Linked DNA regions of Homo sapiens. The protein of the gene in region 1 interacts with the protein of each later gene in a biochemical or structural test. Each region holds a gene or a part of one and is shown in the gene's direction. Other genes may lie near its edges.

What was found.
Region 2: the proteins of NSMCE1 (region 1) and MAGEF1 form a complex in vitro, tested with the Homo sapiens proteins (2 studies listed by BioGRID).

Annotation. Positions count from the first base shown.
Region 1 is NC_000016.10:27,251,095-27,259,579, reverse strand, and holds part of NSMCE1 (non-structural maintenance of chromosomes element 1 homolog), read left to right. Parts: intron 1-1,998; 5' UTR 1,999-2,009; coding exon 2,010-2,145; intron 2,146-8,485. UniProt on the Homo sapiens protein: RING-type zinc finger-containing E3 ubiquitin ligase that assembles with melanoma antigen protein (MAGE) to catalyze the direct transfer of ubiquitin from E2 ubiquitin-conjugating enzyme to a specific substrate.
Region 2 is NC_000003.12:184,709,864-184,718,257, reverse strand, and holds MAGEF1 (melanoma-associated antigen F1), read left to right. Parts: upstream 1-6,193; 5' UTR 6,194-6,436; coding exon 6,437-7,360; 3' UTR 7,361-7,894; downstream 7,895-8,394. UniProt on the Homo sapiens protein: Enhances ubiquitin ligase activity of RING-type zinc finger-containing E3 ubiquitin ligases. Proposed to act through recruitment and/or stabilization of the E2 ubiquitin-conjugating enzyme at the E3:substrate complex.

The DNA of each region.
Region 1 (8,485 bases):
TTTCCTCTACACCTCCATGATGCCAAAGAGGATAATCTCCCTAAAACACAGCTAGGCAACACCATGTTCCTGCTTCAAGACCCTTAGTTTGTAGAGATCCTTCATTTGCAGGATAGAAGTCCATTGTTTTTAGCCTAGCACATTCTAACCCTGTGCCCAGAACAACCACTGGCAAATACGGGGGTGCTAAGTACATCGACATGGAATGGCCCTAGTGATAGGAAATAAAGTTGATGACAGGCTGGATTTGAGGTTTAAGGAGAGGAGGACCAGAGTTCGATGCTCAGGTGTGTGGTATGATTGTGTGGACTGCACCGTCCACACCAGATGATTTGCAAAGAGAAGGACTTGGGAGAGGAAAGGGGCTAAGGAGGTGGAAGGAGAGGATGAGTCTAACGTAGGCTTTGTTGAGGTGCAGATTTGGTGAGATGGAGGATATTTTTCTAGCAGGCAGTTGGAGGGACTGGTTATGAGATGGCGCATTTTCCCAGCCCTGAGGTCCAGTTGAGGATGCTGTTAAAGAACAGCACTGGCTGGGCGTGGTGGCTCACACTGTAATCCCACCACTTTGGGAGGCTGAGGCAGGTGGATCGCCTGAGGTCAGGAGTTCGAGGCCAGCCTGGCCAACATGGTGAAACCCGTCTCTACTAAAAATACGAAAATTAGTCAGGCACGGTGGTGGGCGCCTGTAGTTCCAGCTACTTGGGAGGCTGAGCCAGGAGAATCACTGGAACCCGGGAGGCAGAGGTTGTAGTGAGCCGAGATCACGCCACTGCACTCCAGCCTGGGCAACAGAGTGAGACTCCATCTCAGAAAAAAAAGAAAAAAAAAAGAACAAAAGAGCAGTAATTAGCAGTCTTGTGGATCTCTTATGTGCCAGGTGCTTGGCAAGCCTTTGGTAGTTGTGACTCATTTAGGCTTCCTCTATGTCTTTAAGGTAGCTACTAGTTTCCCAGTTTTAGAGGTGAAGAGACTAGGCCTTAGGGAGGCTGAGCATTGTTAGCTAAAAATGTTTGCCTGCTGTATTTGCCCAAGGCACCAGTGAACTTCTTTCTTGTCAGATCTTGACATCACCTAAAATGAATGTAAACACCTCAGAATTCCAGGACCCATTGCAGTCAGAACATCCAGGAAAGGGTTTGGGAATCTGTATTGTTAAAATGCACATTAGGAAATCCTTAGGATCAGGCAGATCTGGGACTTTCTGGTCTCAGTGCTTCCTGTTTAGTTCCAAATTCACATTCTTAGCCCCTGCACTGCGTGCTCCATGGCAGTAGCCAGCGTTTTGATCAGGGCTTGTGGAATAGTTTTATTAACTGTGATCTTTGTGGTTTACGGAAAGATCCCATTTTGTTAGTGAGCAGGAGATTTCGAAAATAGTCTGAAGTCCTGCCATGATAGTTGTTTTATTAGTGGTTTGGGGAGAGGAGGAAACTAACATTTATTAAGTGTTTACTAGTAGTTCTCTCAGTAATGAACTTCATTATAATTTTATGGTGAGAAAACGGGGCCTCTGCTCAATTTCTCCAAGGCCATAGATCTGGTAAAAAGGCTCAGCCAAGGGTTAGACCCAGAATTGCCTGATAGTAAAAATAGCTCAGACTTATTTAGTGCTTACTGTGTTACCAGGCTATTACATGTATTAACCCATCTAATCTTCGTAGCAGTTCTGCAGAGGACGTTTCTATCATTAGTCCCACTTTACAGATCAGAAACCAAAGCCTGTGGGGACTAAGTTGCTCAATCTCACACGCCTAGTAAGTGGGAGAGCCAGGCCCTGAATCCCGGCATTCTAGCTCCAGAATCCACACCTCTTACCACTGCCCAGTCCTGATGCTGTGACTCGTGTTCTTCTTCTCACCTTTGTAGTAAACAGCATGAAGAATGACTTTTAAAAATGATAGCAAATTTATATTTGTTAATGTAAATTAGTACAAGACCCAGGACGTTGCTTCTGATGTGCTTGGGGTTGACTAGTGTCATTTACTTCCTTTTCAGTTCGTTCCCACATGCAGGGCAGCACAAGGAGAATGGGCGTCATGACTGATGTCCACCGGCGCTTCCTCCAGTTGCTGATGACCCATGGCGTGCTAGAGGAATGGGACGTGAAGCGCTTGCAGACGCACTGCTACAAGGTCCATGACCGTGAGTACCGTTTCCCTGTTCCCAGGGCGCTCTGGTGCTGTGTTGATCAGGGACCAGTGACATAGGTACAATACCATGTAACTTGTTAACCGGTACTCCTGAGCTGAGCATTCAAGCCTCTTCACAATCTTACACGGGCCCATCTTTCTAATTTCATCTTCCACTTTTATTTTTTTTCCAAGTAAACCTGACATTTAGCCCTGTGGATAAAAACTTAGAGTCTAAAGCTGTATAGTTGTGGTTCACACCAAGCCTCCAGGACCTGCCCCAGCCTCAGTTTCTGTATCTGTAAAGTGAGGATAGTAATTGTACTTAACACATAAGTAAGTGCATGGTTCAGGGAATTGAGAGACATGATATGTACAAGACAGTGGCGCAGAGACAGTGCCTAGTGGGGTATTGATGGACACAGGGCAGCTTGGCTGGGTGCGGTGGCTCACGCTGTTATCCCTGCACTCTGGGAATCAAGGTGGGAGGATAGCTTGAGGCCAGGAGTTTGGGACCAGCCTGGGCAATGTAGCAAGACCCTCTCTATTTTTTTATTTGAAAAAAAGAAAATAAATTATAAAACAAAAAAATGGGGGAGCTTAGCACAACACTTAAGGGCACAGCCTTAGACTGGGCCGGACCTGAAGAGTGTGTCCCTGCCCTGTGTCAGCTGAAGGCATTTGGGGCATCTTACGGGGCCACTGGGAGGGGCAAATAAGAAGCCCTTGGAGACAGGACATGGTGCTAAGTTCTAAGTAACTGGAGATGGTGGAAGAAACAGTAGGATCAGTGTTGATAGATCAGTCGAATTAGCATTGGCAGATATTGTTGAGTTGTGTGCCAATATGGGTAGATCTTACTGATTAGATTTTATGCAGTGACAAAGGTGATGGATGAGTAATTGTATGATGTGATTATGTTGTTTTTTTGTGAAGTACAAAATCGTTTTCATTGGTTATGAATGCATTTGCATGTAAAGGTATAAAAGTGGACCAGAAGAAGACGCAGGACACTTGTGAGGTGCTTGTGAGGAGAAGCAGAGTGGGAGTGGGCTGTCAGCAGAGATCACAGGACCCTTCACTTTTATCCTGTTATGTTCTTTTATTAAAAAGAAAAGTCTTGAAGCCAACGTGACATTATTAGCCTAACAACATGACATTAATTAGTGTAGTCTACTGGTTGTCACCTCTGATGAATGGGAATGCAGGCGTTTGGTTTTTATTCTGCCTTATTCTGCCTTTCTCTCTGTATTTTTAATTTTCAAAAGAAAAAGATAAAAAATGACATAGAAGTGAGCCAAGCCAAGAGGTATGAGAAAGGGCGTGTACAGGTACACAGGGAGCAAGTACACAGGTGAAGGGACACAAAAAAAAGGCAAAAAGATGCTTTCATTCTTAGTCCACAGGCATCCTGTAGCTCCTTGCAGTGAGCTGTGAAAGGGCGAAGGGACACCAGAAAGGGTGTCCCTCCTGTCCCCAAAGGCAAACACTTCATGAGTGCATTACATCTTCTTCCCAGCCACTTTTATGCCTTTGCATGCAAATGCATTCAAAAGTGATGAAGATCATTTTATACTTTTCAAAATGTGAAGGGACACGAGAAAAGGTAGGTGTCACATTTGGAGCACTGCAGTTTCTGCAGCATGTTAGAGTTCAAAGCCTGATCCCAGAGAGGTGAGCAGTGAATGGGAATAAGAAGAGGGAGACAGAACAGAAACGAATATTCTTTCAAGGTGTGCAAAGGAAGGAGGAATAAAAGAAGGTGGCGTGTTAGACGGAGAAGAAGCAGTTTGAAGTGTCTGGAGAGTAGCATCTGCGTTCTCCAGAGCACTGGTCCATGGAGGTGTTCCATGGGGAATTCTGGGAGCTCAGTAATGCCAGGAACAAGTTAGCCTGTTGAACTGTGTTTAATTCTGTGTATCCAAACCTAATTGACCTACTGATAACCTACCCTGGGAATCCCTAGACAAGAATATATGATGTGTGGGAAGAGAATACATTCTTTTCGTGTGTAGGTTTGCAGATCATGAAGAACCCTATACACCATAGTAATGGCTTTTTACTTCTGCGGACAGTGTGGCCCTCTTGAAGTATTCAAAGCAGAGAGTGAGAGAGACAGTTTTAGGTTTGAGAACCATCTCCGTGGTGAAGGTAGATGCGCCGCAGTTGTACCAGCAGAGAAGGATCTTTGGTGAGAGACTTTTGTATTGAAAGGGGATGTTATACCTGTTAAGCTAGTTTCTCTTGCTCTTTAAAAAGCATAGTAGCGGCTGGGTGTGGTGGCTCACACCTGTAATCCCAGCACTTTGGGAGGCTGAGGAGGGTGGGTCACCTGAGGTCAGGAGTTCAAGACCAGCCTGGTCAACATGGTGAAACTCCATCTCTACTAAAAATACAAAAATTAGCCGGGTGTGGTGGTGCATGCCTGTAGTCCCAGCTACTTGGGAGGCTGAGGCAGGATAATTGCTTGAACCTGGGAGGCAGATGCTGCAGTGAGCTGAGATCCTGCCCCTGCACTCCAGCTTGGGCGACAGAGCGAGACCATGTATCAAAAAAAAAAAAAAAAAAAAAAAAAAAAAAAGCATGGTTGGACTTTAAACCTACCCCTCAATATCCTCCAGAAATGTGCATAAGAACGCTTGTCTTCAGCCTGAGCAACATGGTGAAACCCAGTCTCTACCAAAAGTACAAAAAATTAGCCAGGTGTGCTGGCACACACCTATGGTCCTAGCTACCCAGGAAGCTGAGGCAGGAGGATCGCTTGAGCAGGGGAGGTGGGGGTTGCAGTGAGCTGAGGTTGCACCACTGCACTCCAGCCTGGGCAACACAGTGAACCCCCATCTCAAAAAAATAAAAGAATGCTTGTGTTAATCCTGAATCTCTTATTTACACGACAATTTAGTCCTTTTCTCTTTTTTTCTCCTGTGAGTCTTGACTGTAAGCTTTCATGTTGGTGGGGAAGTTTCACAGCTCACTGCAAGGAGCCACATGATGCCTTGGTACTAAGACTGAAAGTGTTTTTGCCTTTATTTGACCTTTAAAATTGTTATGATCTAATTTAGGAAAGTCCTGTAGAATGTGTCTAGGAATTGATTTATTCTTCACACTGTGTACCATTTCTTTGCACCTAGATATGGTTATGGCCAGGGTGAACAGGGTAGAACAATCTATTTTGTCCTATCTTCATTTAAGAAAAATGCCAAAAAACTTGTTACTGCATGTTCTTGTTATTAGGGAGATTTTAAACAGGAAATGACAGAAATTATCTAAACTTAAGTGAATACTCGCAAGACCCAATATTATTAATTTCCTATCTTTTGAAGAGATGGCCAGGAAAATCCCCTTGTACCAAATAGAAAAATATTTAGCTTCTAGGAAAATTATGAAACAAAGGAGTGATTGAAATTGCAAGTTATTCTAATTGCCATTTCCCAGGGTGTTTGTCCAGTTTATCAAATCACTTCTTATTCTAGGCTTTGGTTTGGGTTCTCTTCTTACTGTCGTTAAGGGGAAACAAAGTCCCCAATTCTCCTGGCTAGTGAAGAGTTTAGATTTTGTTCTCAAGTTCAGTGCAGGCCTTGGGTCGAGCCTTTCGGAATGGCGCTAGGGACCTGTGTTCTTAGAGGACCTTAGATTTTTGAGCCAGGACTTGCATCCACACATACGTTTATTCAACCAGCAAAGCTTCCCTAGAATCTCAAGTGAGCCAGGCCTCTGTGCTAGGGACTGGTGACTCAGAGATTGAATTTTTATTTTACCATGGCTCTCATGAGTCATACAGACAAGGGGTCAGATGATTCCAATATAGGCCTCCTTGATAGAAGTCGGCACAGGAGGCCTCGGGGGTGGTGGAGAAGGCTTGGGTTTGAGGTTTTCCACTTTTGGCCAGTATGGAGCAACAGGGCTCAGTACACCTTCTTGCCTGAAACAATTCAAAAATGGACAAAGTATAAAATACTGGACATTCGTCAGTCAAGGCCAGTGATCTTTCGAGAGATGGGCAATGAGGGTTTCTTTTTCTCTTGACACTTGATGTGGTATCTTTTCTAACACTACTCCAGTTCTCTAGATAACAACTGGGCATTCCATAATTCAGTTTAATTCTGACACTATCTGCCTGGAGTTAGCATCAAATCCTACAAGTTAAAGGGCTCAGTGTCACAAGACTGACCCAACTTAAGACACCAGTTGTAAGTCCTGGGCTACCTGTGTTTCTGACCAATGGCTGTACATCAGTGGTTCCCATAACTCCCTCTTTGGATTTGATAATTTTCTAGAATGATTCATAGAACTCAGGAAAACACTTTACTTACATTTTGACTTACGTGGTTTTTTTATAAAGGCTACAACTCAGGAACAGCCACATAGGAGAGATCACAGGGCCAGCTGTGGGAAGTGGGGGTGGCATGGAGTTTCCGTGCCCTCTCTACTTGCACCACCGTCTCAACGCCTCTGTGTGTTTAATAACCCGAAGCTCTTCAAATCCTGTCGTTCAAGGGTTTCTTTTTTATTTTTATTTTTATTTTTTTTGAGACAGTTTTGCTCTTGTCGCCCAGGCTGGAGTGCAATGGCAAGATCTCGGCTCACTGCAACCTCTGCCTCCCAGGTTCAAGCGATTCTCCTGCCTCAGCCGCCTGAGTAGCTGGGACTACAGGCGTGAGCCACCACACCCGGCTAATTTTTGTGGTTTTAGTAGAGATGGGGTTTCACCATGTTGGCCAGGCTGGTCTCGAACTTCTGACCTCAGGTGATCCGCCTGCCTCCGCCTCCCCAAGTGCTGGGATTACAGGCATGAGCCACCGCGCCCGGCTAAGTTTTAAATTATTTGTAGAGACGGGGGTCTTCTTCTGTGGCCTAGGCTGGTCTCGAACACCTAGGCTCAAGTGATCATCCTGCGTCAGCCTTCCAAAATGTTGGGATTCAGGCGTGAGCCACTGCACCCAGCCCAGTTTCAGGTTTTATAGGGCCTGTTGATTATTGAATTTGGCACACTCTAAGAAAAATAATCCCACAAAATTGTGAATCCACCATTAGAAATGATTTGAAATATTTATTTAGCCACCGTGCCTGGCCATTCCTGGGTTTCTATGGAGGTTTCTTTACACAGGCATGATTGATCAGTCACTGGCCGTTGACGAGTGCTTCCATCTCCAGTCCCTCTCTTCTCCTCAGATATTGGGGAGTGGCTGAAAGTTCCATGTTTTTTATTGAGGCTTGGTCATTCTGGTGACCAGCCCCCATCCTAGGGGCCTGCCAAGAGTTGCCTCATTAGAGCAAAAGATGCTTCTATCACCTATATGACTCAGGGAATTCTAAGAGTTTTAGAAGTTCTGTACCAGGAACCTGGGGGAAAGACCAAGTAACTTTCTTCTGCCACAAGCGATAGTGGGAGTGAGCAGTACAGCTGCCCCAGCTCAGTGCCTTTAGAAAGTTTCTAGGCCATGGCACAGGGGAAACCCAGGCAGAGCTAGGCAGCCTCCCTGCGTTGAGGAGATGGAGATGAGAGTTCAGGGAGACTAAGGCAGGTAGAGGTTGCAGGACGGAGTACTTACAATGGAGTATAAGGTGGACCAGAGGTGCACAGAGAGAAAACTTGAGATGTCCAAAGTGCCCCTCCACTCAAGGATCCCGCTGAGAACTGATGAGCAAGAAAACTTCTTAAGGCCAGGGAGAGAACTAGTTGAAGGATTAGAGAAAACAATGCCAGCTATTCACAGAACTGGGAATAGTGCCCGGCCCAAACATTTGAGGAAGAACTCACACCATTTCTACCCAAACTCTTCTGTAAAATTGAAGAGAATATGTTACAACTAATTCTATGAGACCTGCATGATTCTGATACCATAACCAGACAAAGACATTGCGAGGAAAGAAAACCCCAAACAAGACTCCTCATGAGCGTAGACGTTAACGTGCTAAACCCAACTGTGGCAAATCTAATCTAACAGTGTTTACAAAGGATGGTACGACATAACCAAGTAGGGTTTATCCTGATTTTGCAGGGTTGATTTAGTATTAATATTTGAAAATCAGTGTAATTCACCATATTAAGCTAAAAAAGAAAAATCTTGTGTTTATCTCAATAGGTACAGAAAAAGTATTTGACAAAATCTCATGTTTGCCCTGGTGTGATGTAGCAGAAAGTTTTTTATAGGAAGCTAAGGGATCCTAAGTAGCAGGGGATAAATAGGATAAATAGACTTAGAACACAAGTGAGGAGTCTGAACTCTACAGAGTTTTATATATATATATATATTTATATATATATATATATATATATATATATATTTTAAATAATTAAAATTAAGGCTGGGCGCGGTAGCTCACGCCTGTAATCCCAGCACTTTGGGAGG
Region 2 (8,394 bases), on another chromosome or scaffold:
TTCTTTTTACAACAGCTTATTTCCCCTAACTAGATCAGTGGTTCCCAATGTCCCAAAAAGCTTCTTGTATTACCCCCATGGTCCCACAGCTTGAAAGATTTTGGTTATTAAATCAAACACATTTATGAAATAATAGCCTGCTTTTCTCAGTTCTTGATCCTAGTAAGCTTTCTGAACATTGAGAGCGCTGCCAGCCTTTCCTCTCATACCTAACTCTAGGGACTTGGAGTTGGGAGCCACCCACCAAGATCATAAACGCCTTGAATCTGCAGCCCTGTCTCCACACTTCCCATAGCACCTTACTCAGCGCCTTGTGCTTAAAACACACCTAGTAACTGCTTGTGGCATAAACAAGAAGTTTCACACACATGACAGAGGGAGAAGCCCTCTCCAAATGAGCTGGTTGGTGTGCAGAAAGGGGTCATTGTTAAAGGAGGCAGAGCTGGAGGCGAGCCCTTCTCCCTCCATCCACCCGGAGCAGCACCCCCAATTACACCAGCTGGCCTCCAACTTCTGTGTGTGAGCCGATTAAAAAGCACCCTCTCTTCAGTGTCTGGAAACTCCTGCAAGGAAAGTTTGCTGCCCAAAGTTGGCTTTTGACTAGAGTCTTAATAAGAGGCCTCAGCAGGCTGTGGTTAGAGAGACAATGTCACTTAGAGGAGCAGCTTGAAGCGGCAGTTAGGAGAAGAATTATTTTAATGAATACATTTCCTTTCAATTGTATGGGAATATCAAGATCCCATTAGAATGGGGAAGCAATTAGAACTAATAAAGATGAATGCACAGTGCTCTGTGCGTGCGGAATAACAAGCAGCCCACAAAGGGGCTCCAGAGAGGCCGCTGTAATCCAAGCAAACTGGCGGCCAGCAGAGGGGAAACGGCTCTGTTCAGCCGCTCAAAGCCCCTGCGTCCTGCACATTCTGATCACGGCCTGCGAATGGCGTGAGGTGGGCCTTCGAGGTGGGGGTTGGGCCCCCCGCCCTTGCCCAGCCTCTTGGGGATTGAGATGGGCTGTTGGCAGCCCCTTGGCAACAGCCATTCAGACCAGGGCCCTGGCTCCTGGCCAGGCTCTCGCCCGCCCCTTGCACTGGGCCTCATTGTGTCCAGGTGGCAAATGCCTTCTCGCCAACTCTCCTTCGAGGTTTAGAGAGGGGGTGGGACAGTGGAAGAGGGAGAAGGGGATGAATGAGTAGGGGGCCCTCTGCCCCCTGCCATTCCCCCTCCCCCGCTGGCCAGGGTCTGCTCCTCCTCTGGGTTTGGTGTTATATTACAGACACTGGTGAGTCACTGGCAGCCAAACACAGAAGTACTGTTGCTTACACAATTACTCTTCAAAAAGTAACAAACAATTTTCATTACCCAAGTCAGATCGAATCATTCGCCTGGCCATCCTGCCTCAATCCCAGCCCCATAGACGGGACCCAAAGCCTCACACTCTGCCCATTCTGCTCTGACAAAACCAGCTTCAATTTGTCCCGGCCTAGGGATAGGGACAGAGCTCTTCCTCTGATCCCTGTTTGGAGCCAGATCAGCTGCACGGCTGTCAAGACTGTCAGGAGAAATAGGGAAGACACAAGCACCCACGCAGCCTGGAGACCATCAGATCTGGGGTGACATGTTACTGAGCACCTGTGTGAAGAAGGCATTCAAGAGTTTGGAGGACTCTATTGCCAAGTTTAGAAGGAATCCAACAAGATAACCCTGGCTCTGCACCAAAGTATTCACTGGCCTCAAATGGAGTGTCAGTACTTGACATTTCTTTATTTAATCTTTTTTGGCCAGACAGTTTTTTCAATGAGGAATGTGTAAGCTATTCCGAAATGTCTGTCTAAGAGGCCAGTCACCCTCATTACTGGGATTTTTCCACCATATCTCTTTTAGAAAAGGGTCTGTAACATTTTATATTTATTTCTTAATGGTGGAGCACTTTAAACGCATATTTACATGTATAATCTTGATTGAACTTCAAAATAACTCTGTAAGGATGGGCAAAGCAAGGGTTGTTGGGGCCTAAAGATGAGGAAAAGGTGGCTCAGAGAGGTTCAGCACCCTGTGCAAGGTCACAGAATGGGCGAGTACTGACCTGGTTCAGCACTTTGTCCCAGGAAACCTCCTCCGCGTCTCCACAGAGTGCTGGGCATTTCAGGACAGCTCAGCTGCAATTCTGCTTTTCCAGTGGAACATCCTTCTCTCTTCCACGTATGAAACTTTACGAAGCACTGTGGGCTTTTGAAGACTCTAGTCTAGGCTAAGAAGGATCCTCTCTCAAGAAGATTCCAACCCAATAGTCATTAAAGCATATGTTTCGTCATCTCCCAAACCAAAGGCATATATCTTTTGTCCCTTTTAAAAGTTTAGGTAAGGAATGTGTTAAAAGTCTGCCTGTTGCCGGAAATGGTGGCTCATGCCGGTAATCCCAGCACTTTGGGAGGCCGAGGCAGGCGGATCACGAGGTCAGGAGATCGTGACCATCCTGGCTAACACGGTGAAACCCCATCTCTACTAAAAAAAAAAATACAAAAAATTAGCTGCATGGTGGCAGACGCCTGTAGTCCCAGCTACTCGGGAGGCTGAGGCAGGAGAATGGCGTGAACGTGGGAGACGGAGCTTGCAGTGAGCCGAGATGCGCCACTGCACTCCAGCCTGGGCGACAGAGTGAGACTTCGTCTCAAAAAAAAAAAAAAAAAAAAAAAAAAATTCTGTGTGTCCGGTTACATGGTGGACATAACAAAAAAAAAAATGGGAAAAATTATTGTTTGCATTCCTTCCACTGTAACATGGTAACATCTAGCGATCGGCAAGTGGTAATGCAGAGTCCATTCACCTTTCTTACTCCTCGCCTCCTCCCATACCTAAAGGGCTGTTCATTTTTTAAAATCCTTTTTTATTTTTATAAATTTTGAGGTATGATTCATACACTATGAAATGCATACCTGGCTGGGCATGGTGGCTTACACCTGTAATCCCAGCATTTTGGGAGGCTGAGGCAGGCAGATCACTTGAGGTCAGGAGTTTGAGACCAGCTTGGCCAACATGGTGAAACCCCGTCTCTGTTAAAAATACAAAAATCAGCCAGGTGTGGTGGCAGGTGCCTGTAATCCCAGCTACTTGGAAGGCTGAGGCAAGAGAAGCACTTGAACCTGGAGGCAAGGGTTGCAGTGGCAGGGGTTGCAGTGAGCTGAGATTGTGCCATTGCACCACTCCAGCCTGGGTAACAGAGTGAGACCCTGTCGCAAAGAAAAGAAAAGAAAAGAAAAGAAATGCATAGCTATTAAGCGTACAGTTTCACAAGTTTTGACAAATGTATACCTACATCCAAATCAAGACACAGAACGTTGCCATCACCACTGAAAGTTCCTGGATACCCCTTTCCAGTCAACACCACCCCAGGCCTCCACTGTCCTAATTTCTATCACCATAGATTAGCTTATCCTGCCTCGAACATCAGATAAATGGAATCATATTATACGTATAATCTTTTGTATCTTTCATCTGTCACTCAACATATCTGCCAGACTCATTCACATTGTGTCAGTAGTTTGTTCCTTCTTATGAGTAGTATCGTCATTTATTCAGTTCTTAAAATCCAGCCCTATTACCACAGATTTGTCCCTCAAAATTCTTTTCATTTAATATATCTTCTGCATGCTCCTTTCCGTGCATGTATCTCCTGCATATCTCCCTGGCAATCCTTGTAGTGAGGAAAATATGTAAGTGGACTATTTTATCTCTAGCACTGTCCTTTTAGGTATGGGTGGCTCTCTCTACCTTCAGGAAAAACAGATAACCAGGCAGTCTTGCTTCAGAGTTTACAGATCTGGGTTTTCATTTCTTGTCTAGCACTTAACAGATGGGTGGTTCAGGGCAGGTGATTTAACCTCTCTGTGACTGTTTTCCCATTTGTAAATGTGGATAATAATACCTTCTTAATAGGGATTTGTGAGGACAAAATTATATTGTACATAGAATGTTTGGCACAATGAAAACTAATAATAGCCTCAAGCTAGGCTATAATAAACATCCTCTCCTGCTTCATTCACATACTTCCAGGTTTGTAAGTCATATGATACAAGTGGGTATAAATTTTCAAAAGTTTTTAAAAGGAAGATTTCATATTTAGATTTAGAAAAGTCTATCAGATATTTACTTAAAATAAGTAACTGTTATTTCCTAGGGAAAAAAGTAAAGCCTTCTGTCATTTATTCATTGGCAATTATATATCGAGTATTGACTAAGAGAAGCTCTTCAAAAGAGTTAAAAACATAGCCCTAGCTTTTAGGATGTTTGGTTTGGGGAGGGTAATAAGATAAGCACAACAAATTATAATACAAAATATAGTAAATGATAATAATAATAATTAACATCTATGAATGTAGTGGTTAAGAGCACAGTCTCTGGAGTCATACTATATGGGTTCACATCCCAGCTGTGTGATGTTGGGCAAGTTACTTAACCTCCTTGTGTGTAACCTCACCTGGAAAATGGGGCTAATACCACTTACCTAGCAGGGCTACAGTATCAGAAAAAAGTGGCCCAGGGTGTTTGAGCATCCTGTACAAGGTCACAGAATGGGTGAGTACTGACCCGGTTCAGTGCTATGTCCCAGGACACCTCCTCCGCATCTCCACAGAGTGCTAGGCATTCCAGGACAGTTCATCTTGCAATTCTAATATTGTATATTGCATATAAAAATATGCATTAATTAACAGCTAACATGTATTGAATATCAATATGTGCCAAGCACTGTGTTAAATGCTTATGTGCATTACTTCACATAATCTCCACAATGCTGTTACTACTATTATACTCATTTTACTGATAAGGTAACAGAAGGGCAGAAGTTTAGGTAACTTGCCCAAGATTACATAGCTAGTAAGTAGCAAACTGTGTCACAGAAAAGATACAATCATCTATAAAATGGGGATGATGGTATTAGTACCTACATTAGTGAGAATCTGATGAATTAATATTTGAAAAGTGATTAGAACGGAGCCTGGCACCTAATAAAGCCTATATATGTGGATGTTAACAATTGCTAAGGTGATTCAGAGATGACAGTAAATAACTTCTATGCGTGGTGACTAAGGAAGGCTTGGGAAGGTGATGTTTAAACTGGGCCCTGAATAGTGGACAGGATTTGGAGAAATGGAGGTGATAGAGAGGGCATTTCTGACAGGGAAGGAAGGGAGGGAGGGAGGGAAGAAGGAAGGAAGGAAGGAAGGAAAGAAGGAAGGAAGGAAGGAAGGAAAGAAGGAAGGAAGGAAGGCAGGAAGGGAAGGAGGGAAGGGAGGGAGGAAGGAAGGAAGGAGGGAAGGAAAGAAGGAAGGAAGGAGCAAGAAGCAGAAGAAAGCTCAGAGTGTGTAAAAAGAGAAAAAGAAAAGAAATACATGGGAGTAGTCAAATTTGACTTGCGCAAAAAAAAAAAAAAAAAAGAACAAACTTCCCCTTTCTTCCAACCAGTCCCTATTCCTGCTGTACTTCTCAGTATTTTCCTCTTATCCCCATGGAATCTGCTGTCCTTACTCCCTCATCATAATGATCCATTGAATATTTATTGAGTTCCTCTCCGTGTCAGGCACTGCTCTAGGCACCGAGGATACAACCCAGTAAATAGGCCGGGTCCCAGTTCCTAGTTTGCACTATAATAATCCTCCAAACTGGATTCTAGCTTTTAGCCGGCCGAACTCCAATCTATCTTCCACAATACCGCCAGAACCGAAGACACAGATCTGGTCTGGACACTCACTTGCTTAAATCCCGCTGCAGTATTTTCTCTTTACGTCCAGAATAAATTTCAGTCTCCCTAGCATCCTTTACTAATTGGTTCGCACAGTCTTACCTCGCAGCCTTCACCGTGCACTCTGCACAAGAGCCCCGGTAAAGCACTGAAAATCCCAGATACACACACTCACAAATAGGCACTTGCAGAAAGAACGTGGGGGGCACTCCATCCCTATTTCATCTCTTGTACACCGAAACATTCCCCAGTCTGCATGCCTTGGATGGGAGAGTCCTGGTTACATTCCCCCGCCCCCGACTTTTCAAGCCTAAAATCCGTCACAGGGCGCACCCCCGTCCCCACCCTCCAGGGCATTTCCACTTATAGCAGCCTGGGCACACCCCCAACCCAGAAGGGACCGGAAAAGGAGGGGCTGCGCGCGGCACTAGGGTCGCCGTCCTGGCTGAGGTGGCCGGAAGTGGCCCCTCGCGCGGGCGCGGACTGAGGCTGCGCGCCGCAGGTTCCGGCTGCTGGCGGCGTTGCGGCCGCAGGTTTGACTCCCGTGCGGTGCGGCCCAGCAGCCACAAAGCTCCCGCTGCCATTGCTCCTTGTACTCCCGCCGTCACTGCCGCTGTCCAACCCCTCCCCCGGGGCTTGCGCGGCGGCTCCCACACCCCTCGGCCCGTGTACGCGCTCTGCACCTGCCTGCCCGAAAACATGTTGCAGACACCAGAGAGCAGGGGGCTCCCGGTCCCGCAGGCCGAGGGGGAGAAGGATGGCGGCCATGATGGTGAGACCCGGGCCCCGACCGCCTCGCAGGAGCGCCCCAAGGAGGAGCTTGGCGCCGGGAGGGAGGAGGGGGCTGCGGAGCCCGCCCTCACCCGGAAAGGCGCGAGGGCCTTGGCGGCCAAAGCCTTGGCAAGGCGCAGGGCCTACCGCCGGCTGAATCGGACGGTGGCGGAGTTGGTGCAGTTCCTCCTGGTGAAAGACAAGAAGAAGAGTCCCATCACACGCTCGGAGATGGTGAAATACGTTATTGGAGACTTGAAGATTCTGTTCCCGGACATCATCGCAAGGGCCGCAGAGCATCTGCGGTATGTCTTTGGTTTTGAGCTGAAACAGTTTGACCGCAAGCACCACACTTACATCCTGATCAACAAACTAAAACCTCTGGAGGAGGAGGAGGAGGAGGATCTGGGAGGAGATGGCCCCAGATTGGGTCTGTTAATGATGATCCTGGGCCTTATCTATATGAGAGGTAATAGCGCCAGGGAGGCCCAGGTCTGGGAGATGCTGCGTCGGTTGGGGGTGCAACCCTCAAAGTATCATTTCCTCTTTGGGTATCCGAAGAGGCTTATTATGGAAGATTTTGTGCAGCAGCGATATCTCAGTTACAGGCGGGTGCCTCACACCAATCCACCAGAATATGAATTCTCTTGGGGTCCCCGAAGCAACCTGGAAATCAGCAAGATGGAAGTCCTGGGGTTCGTGGCCAAACTGCATAAGAAGGAACCGCAGCACTGGCCAGTGCAGTACCGTGAGGCCCTAGCAGACGAGGCCGACAGGGCCAGAGCCAAGGCCAGAGCTGAAGCCAGTATGAGGGCCAGGGCCAGTGCTAGGGCCGGCATCCACCTCTGGTGAGGGTTGGTGAAAAGTTGGCCAGTGGGTCCCCGTGAGGACGAACTACTGTCCTGAGTCATAAGTAATATGGGTGGGGCGAGGGTCTTATTTCTGTAGAAATCGTGTGACTTTAAGGATTTAGATTTTGTATCTTATGTTTTGTAACATTTAATAATTACTGTTAAAATGCTGTTTGTAAATGAGATTGGTCTACTTTTTCCTGTAGGATTTTATTGTAGAGTTTTGCTGGTTTTGTAAAATGGATGGAAGAACTTTGTATTTATACTGTGATTTTGAACAGATTATGCAACATTGGAAGGAAGGCTGTACTTTGATGGTTTGAAGGAACTCAGCAGTATGATGATCTGGTTCCAGGGGAAAAAAATAGCTGGTTGGTGTCTAGCCCCCCAACACTTTTGTCTGTTGTGTATAAAAGAAGAAAGACTGGCATGTACCTTCATTTGCTTAGCTATTTGAGTATCTAGAGAAAAATTAAAATGCAATGAGTTAGCAGTATACCCTGGCACACTTAATAAATTAAACATTTGTGGAGCATCTTGTTTTCTGTGATGCACTGTGTGGGCACTTGGGGATAGAATACTAAACAAGATAAAGGTCCTACTTTTTTTCAGAATTGAAGAGTAAGTAAATAAACAAGAAATTAGCAGTGCAATGAGTTGAAGTCTACAAAGGGATACTTAACCCAGCTGGGATGATTGAGTGAGGTTTGCTGTAATCCCAGCACTTTGGGAGGCCGAGGCGGACTGATCACCGGAGTCAGGAGTTCAAGACCAGCCTGGCCAACATGGTGAAACCCTGTTTCTACTAAAATTACAAAAATTAACCAGGCGTGGTGGCACACACCTGTAATCCCAGCTACTTGGGAGGCCAAGGCACAAGAATCTCTTGAATCTAGGAGACGGAGGTTGCAGTGAGCCGAGATCATACCACTGCACTCCAGCTTGGGAGACAGAGCAAGACCCCGTCTCAGAAAAAAATAAGAAATAAAAATAATGATTTCAGATCACAGCTACTCCTCAGTAATGTGAGCAGAC